Homo sapiens: one gene and its partner. The protein of the gene in region 1 interacts with the protein of each later gene in a pairwise test. Each region holds a gene or a part of one and is shown in the gene's direction. Other genes may lie near its edges.

The links. The genes of interacting proteins can lie anywhere in the genome.
Region 2: the proteins of EPCAM (region 1) and DLST interact in binary tests that used the Homo sapiens proteins (3 or more experiments, as listed by UniProt).

Annotation. Positions count from the first base shown.
Region 1 is NC_000002.12:47,382,811-47,386,310, forward strand, and holds part of EPCAM (epithelial cell adhesion molecule precursor), read left to right. Parts: intron 1-2,355; coding exon 2,356-2,400; intron 2,401-3,500.
Region 2 is NC_000014.9:74,891,916-74,895,415, forward strand, and holds part of DLST (dihydrolipoyllysine-residue succinyltransferase component of 2-oxoglutarate dehydrogenase complex, mitochondrial isoform 1 precursor), read left to right. Parts: exon of another isoform or gene 1-143; intron 144-918; coding exon 919-1,071; intron 1,072-1,432; coding exon 1,433-1,509; intron 1,510-2,396; coding exon 2,397-2,494; intron 2,495-3,500. UniProt on the Homo sapiens protein: Dihydrolipoamide succinyltransferase (E2) component of the 2-oxoglutarate dehydrogenase complex. The 2-oxoglutarate dehydrogenase complex catalyzes the overall conversion of 2-oxoglutarate to succinyl-CoA and CO(2).

The DNA of each region.
Region 1 (3,500 bases):
ATCTTTATCTTTGGATCTGGAATGGTTGCTATGATGTTGATACAAGCTGTGCACAGGTGGTGATGATACTGCATGGTCCCATTTTTAGACCCCAAAACTTAGATGCATGTGTTTATATATGATATTTGTATTAGTGTGGAAAAGGAGGATGTGGAAGAATGCACACCAAACTGTTAAATTTCTTTCTTTTTTTTTTTTGGAATGGAGTCTCGCTGGCCGGACGTGGTGGCTCACTGCTGTAATCCCAGCACTTTGGGAGGCCAAGGCAGCTGGGTCACGAGGTCAGGAGATCGAGGCCATCCTGGCTAACACGGTGAAACCCTGTCTCTACTAAAAATACAAAAAATTAGCCAGGTGTGGTGGCGGGCACCTGTAATCCCAGCTACTTGGGAGGCTGAGGCAGGAGAATGGCGTGAACCTGGGAGGCGGAGCTTGCAGTGAGCCGAGATTGCACCACTGCACTCCAGCCTGGGTGACAGAGCGAGACTCCATCTGAAAAAAAAAAAAAAAAGAAAAGGAGTCTCTCTGTGTTGCCCTGGCTGGAGTGCAGTGTCATGATCTCGGCTCACTGCAGCCTCCACCTGCCGGGTTCAATTGATTCTCCTGCCTCACCCTCCCGAGTAGCCGGGACTACATGCAGAAGCCACCATGTCCAGCTAATTTTTGTATTTTTTGGTAGAGACAGGGTTTCACCATATTGGCCAGGCTGGTCTCGAACTCATCACCTCGTGATCCGCCTGCCTCGGCCTCTCAAAGTGCTAGGATTACAGGCATGAGCCACTGTGCCCGGCTTCTTCTTTTTTTTTTTTTTTTTTTTTTTTTTTTTTTTTTTTTTTTTTTTTGAGATGGAGTCTTGCTCTGTTGCCCAGGCTGGAGTGCAGTGGCACGATCTCGGCTCACTGCAACCTCCATCTCCCAGGTTCAAGCCATTTTCTTGCCTCAGCTTCCCAAGTAGCTGGGACTACAGGCGTGCACCACCATACCTGGCTAATTTTTTTGTATTTCTAGTAGAGATAGGGTTTCACCATGTTGGCCAGGCTGATCTCGAAATCCTGATGTCAGGTGATCTGCTCACTTCGGCCTCCCAAAGTGCTGTGATTATAGGCGTGAACCACCATGCCTGGCCTAAACTGTTAAATTTCTTTAAAGATTATTCATTGTTTCCTTTTTTTCTTTCTCTTTCTTTTCTGTTGTCCCATTGGATCCAGCATTGTTTTTGATTTTGATTTTTGTTTGTTTGTTTCACTTGTCGTGGTAGACTTTTTTTTGTTTAGTAGTGAAAGTTTTTATTTTATTTTATTTATTTATGGAGACAGAGTCTCCTTCTGTTGCCCAGGCTGGAGTGCAATGGTGCATGATCTTGGCTCACTGCAACCTCTGCCCCCCAGGTTCAAGCTATTCTCCTGCCTCAGCCTCCCGAGTAGATGGGATTACAGGCGCCTGCCACCACGCCTGGCTAATTTTTGTATCTTTAGTAGAGATGAGGTTTCACAATATTGGCCAGGCTGGTCTTGAACTCCTGACCTAAAGTGATCCACCCACCTCAGCCTCTGAAAGTGGTAAGATTACAGGCATGAGCCATCATGCCTGACCTATTTTATTTTATTTTAATTTTTTTTTAGAGATGGAGTCCCACTCTGTCGCCCAGGCTGGAGTGCAATGGCGCCATCTCGGCTCACTGCAACCTCTGCCTCTCGGGTTCAAGTGATTTTCCTGCTTCAGTCTCCCAAGTAGCTGGGATTACAGGCGACCACCACCGCGCCTGGCTAATTTTTTTGTTTTTTTAGTAGAGTCGGGGGGTTTCATCATGTTGGCCAGGCTGGTCTTGACCTCCTGACCTCAAGTGATCCGCCCACCTCGGCCCCACAAAGTACCGGTGAGCCACCACGCCCAGCCCACCTTATTTATTTTTAAGAGACAGGGTCTTACTCTGTAGCCCAGGCTGGAGAGCAGTGATGCCATCTCCACTCACTGCAACCTCTGCCTCCTGGGTTCAAGCAATTCTGGTGCCTTAGCCTCCTGAGTAGCTGGGACTACAGGTGCGTGCCATGACACCTGGCTAATTTTTGTATTTGTAGTAGAGATGGGGTTTCACCGTGTTGGCTGGGCTGGTCTGAAACTCCTGACCTCAGATGATCTTCCCGCTTCGGCCTCCCAAAGTGCCGGGATTACAGGCATGAGCCACTCCACTGGTGTGAAATTTTTAATTTAAGAAGCAATAAATGTTTATGGATAGATGTTAAAATTAGTTTTTTTTCAGATCAAAATTATGTCCATTAAAAGCATATATGTCTGTTTAGATAATCTTTTTTTGAATAGCAGTCCTAAAACAATAGTTGTCTTTCTTCCACTCAGGTTATTTCCAGAAAGAAGAGAATGGCAAAGTATGAGAAGGCTGAGGTAAATGGATTACTTACCTAAATAGAAAGGCCCTGTTGAATCTCTTACTCCTAATCACTCTACCTTCCTACACACTGATGCATTTCAGTTATACTGGAGTCCCTTTATACTGTTGTCTTTAGGGTCTTAGGGACAGTCTTAGAATGTACTCTTACCTAAATATTCTTGCGTGAGTTCCATGGCAGATCACCATCTGTTTTCTGCCTCATAGAAGAGTGGAATGGGAAGCCTATGGTTTTTATTCTACAAAGAGTCAACATCTAACAGAATCTTCTGAAGGCATACTCCAGTGGATTCACCTTGGAGAAACTCATTGTGACTGATGATCTGATTTATTATCTCTATGCCAGTGAAATAATCATTTAATATGAACTTAATTTGTCATAATCTATTGTGTACTAACTAGTCTATACTAGTGTGACATCAAAGTGTCAGATTGTTAGTGTGTTTCAGTCCCTTGGAATTGAATATGAACACTTATCCTTGAACCCTATCAATAACATTTTTCACATATCTCAATTTTTGTGTGTCTTTGTAGTTGTATGTGGGCCACTTACTAATATTTTAGCAAGTAATAAAAATAGAAACGTAAAGGAATATTGGAAAAAGTCTAATGGAACCAGAAAGTTCTAGCATTTTTTTCCCATTCTGTAGTAGGTCATCTGGTTTATTTGGTTTGGTGACCGCAAGTCTAGAAGACTAACCCTGAATTGAATGGTAACAGACAGGCAGAATGACAATGTAGTGTTGCAGTGCAGAGCAGTACAGACCTGGGTTTGGCTGGGCAAAATTATATAACTTCTTTAAGCCTCCATGTTTCCTCATCTGTAAAATGAGGATAATAGATAGTATGGACCTGTTGCAAGGATTAAACATAATCAGTGTAAAGTGTTGGTCCCATGCTTGCCACATAAGAAAATATTTGTCAACAGAGTGGTAGTTGTCATTATCATTGTCTCAGTTTGCCTGTAACTAGTTGTGTGATCTGAGACAAACACTAATTTTGAACTTGAGTTTCCCCACATGTAAAATGAAAGATTGATAATAGAAAGTAAATCAATTTTTTCTAGCATTAAAAATAGTATGCATTTAATAAAAAT
Region 2 (3,500 bases), on another chromosome or scaffold:
CTCCTGTTGCAGAAGTTTGTCTTAGCACTAACCCTGGATATAATGTCCAGATGGGTGAAAAACAGAAACAAACATTTCATTTAAAGTTGTGAGATTATTACTTGGCCACTTCAGTGATTTATGAGTCATCCTGGATGAAGTGCTTTCTTAAGCCTAAGTCAACCCTCGATGACTATTTTATTTTTTGAGATGGAGTTTCACTCTGTCGCCAGGCTGGAGTGCAGTGGCCTGATCTTGATTCACTACAACCTCCGCCTCCGGAGTTCAAGTGATTCTCCTGCCTCAGCCTGCCGAGTAGCTGGGACTATGGGCACATGCCACCACGCCCAGCTAATTTTTGTATTTTTGGTAGGGACGGGCTTTCACCATGTTGGCCAGGATGGTTTTGATCTGTTGACCTTGTGATCCGCCTGCCTTGGCCTCCCAAGGGGAGTAATCCCTTGGCCTGTAATCCTGGGATTACAGGCGTGAGCAACTGCACCCAGCCTATTTTTTAATAGTATTCTTGCATATATAATGTTAAAATAGAGGATGAAGAGTATCAGTAATTAGAAATATGTTTATGTATGCATTTCAATATTTTAAATTGCCTAGGTGTTTTTTTTTTTCCTTGGAAGTTTACATTTTCTTGGGCTTGATAGGTGCTTTGAAAGTACTTGCTGAATTTATTCAGTGGAAACCTGTGAAATTGGGAAGGGAGCTAAGTTGAGCCAGTTATCTGATGGACATTTAGGGACCCTGAGGACTAGAGAATAGTGCCTTATGTCATTGTGTGTGTGTCTCATAGTGCTTTGCATATTGCTGATACCCAGTAGACATTCGTTACTTGATTGGAGCTAGAGTTTTTGCCACTAAATTTTGCTTGGTTGCTTCTCATTTCAGACAGTGCCAGTGGCATATACTTTTCTTGTTTTTCAGCTGCTCCTGCTAAGGCCAAGCCGGCTGAAGCTCCTGCTGCTGCAGCCCCAAAAGCAGAACCTACAGCAGCGGCAGTTCCTCCCCCTGCAGCACCCATACCCACTCAGATGCCACCGGTGCCCTCGCCCTCACAGCCTCCTTCTGGCAAACCTGGTAGGCTTCCAACTCCCACATGTCATGTGGGAGAACATCTCGTCTAATATGTTCCTTCAAAGGGTAAACTCTAGACTGATGATGGTTCTGAACAGGCCAGGTTGGCTGCTTTGTAGAAAGAATTCTAGACTTTGTATCCAAAGGCCTGCTTTGCATCTCAGCTTTCTGTTACTAGCTGTGTGTCTTTAGGCTAGTCACTTAATTTATCTGAACAGATTGTTCATCTGTGAAGTTGGAGTGATACTAATATACCTCAGAATATCTTGAAGATTAAGTAACAGTACATATGAAAGCACTGGCACAAACTCAGCAGATGTTTCTTTCCTTGTCTGATGCAGCTTTATCCTCTTTTCATTTTCAGTGTCTGCAGTAAAACCCACTGTTGCCCCACCACTAGCTGAGCCAGGAGCTGGCAAAGGTCTGCGTTCAGAACATCGGGTAAGCCTCTGAGGACCACTTTCAGGAAAGAGGCAGGGGGCAGTGTTGAGATTAGTGGAGTATGGGTGTGGTGATGCCTACCTTTGAATGCCTGGCAGCTCATTCCCTCAACCTTGATAAAGGGAGTTTAGGATATAACTTCTTCATAGTCACATAACCATCAAATGATAGGACTAGAACCTGAGGTCTTCTGAACACTTGTTCAGTGGTTTTCCTACTATATTATGCTACCAGTGAAAGCCTTGGGTAAGTTAAATATTTGTAGGGGTGGTAGCTTAGTAACTCACCCCCGTCCTCCCACGATGTCACACGCTTCAGAGAGGTGGTTTAGTGAGCTCTATTCCTATACTTCTGGGATACTTAGCTGTAGCTAAGGGATAATACTCAGTAGCAATAGCTGTCAGGTGCAGACATAAAGCCTCAAGGAAGTATGGTCAGGATTGTGGTTCCTCTGCCTGAGAATACTTCCTAAAAATATGATAGCCTCGAAAGTTTGTTGCTCATGAGGTTCTGTTCCACAAATAGCTATTCTTATGCAAATCTTTATCAACAGAAAGTGCCCTTTTTCTTATGATTCTTATGTTGGCTAGACTACACTACACTACATTCTTTTATAAATGGGTTTTGGTTTTTAAATCACTGTTTCTGAGCCTTCATTCTTGGTCAAGCTTTAGGCACATCTGAGTGAGTAGTTTTGGCCTGTGTTTGCATGTTTTTGCTTGGAGGAGAAAGGGCCACCACAGGAAAGGGAAGCCTGGAGCTCGTGTACTTAGATACTGTAGTCCTTGGCCATCTACTCGTGGCAAGCCGTGTTCTTTCTGACTACACGGGGAATGCTTGACCCAGAGAGATCAGATTGTCAATGCTTGTTCCACTCTTACTTTCAGGAGAAAATGAACAGGATGCGGCAGCGCATTGCTCAGCGTCTGAAGGAGGCCCAGAATACATGTGCAATGCTGACAACTTTTAATGAGATTGACATGAGGTAGTGTCTCTAGTCCCTCTTATCCCCTAGGCCCCTTTTTCTTAGAGAACACGAACTTGCCCCACTCCTTATCTAGTGCTGATTCTAAAACTAACTTGTCAGGGAAGAGGTATTTGTTTATTGTTTTTTGTTTGTTTGTTTTTGTTTTTGTTTTTTGAGATGGAGTCTCGCTGTCTCCCAGGCTGGAGTGCAGTGGCATGATCTCGGCTCACTGCAAGCTCCGCCTCCCGGGTTCACGCCATTCTCCTGCCTCAGCCTCCAGAGTAGCTGGGAATACAGGCGCCCCCCACCACGCCTGGCTAATTTTTTGTATTTTTTTAGTGGAGACGGGGTTTCACCGTGTTAGCCAGGATGGTCTCGATCTCCTGACCTCGTGATCTGCCCTTCTCGGCCTCCCAAAGTGCTGGGATTACAGGCGTGAGCCACCGCGCCTGGCCTGTTTATTGTTAACTTTCACAGAGTGAGCCGCTGGCTTCTTCTCTAATTGGCTTTCCTAATACTATGCCTGCCTCCTCCATGACCTTAACCTTAGCCTTGGCTAGGTGTAGTGGCTCACACCTGTAATCCTGGCACTTTGGGAGGCCGAGGCAGGCGGATTGCTTGAGTCCAGGAGTTCAAGACCAGCTGGGTAACAAGGCGAAACCCCACCTCTACAAAAAATACAAAAATTAGCCAGGTGTGGTGGTGCACATCTGTAGCCCCAGCTACTTGGGGGGCTGAGATGGGAGGATTGTTTGACCCCGTCACTTACATATTTTCCTAAGTGATTCAGAATCGAGTGGATGAAAAGGCAAAGATAGGCTGGGCTTGTCTTTCATTTTACCCAGCTCTGACAGTGAAATGGAAAACAAGTTGTGTTTTTAAATAACCTTAGAATGTTAACCAAAGGTACTAATTCACTAGGTATGCCCATTTCTGTAGTGAGCTAATTGTTGACTTACCTGTTTTCTTCAAGATTTCAATGTGTTCAAGTATCAGCACTGTCAGGAAGAGAAATTTGACAAAC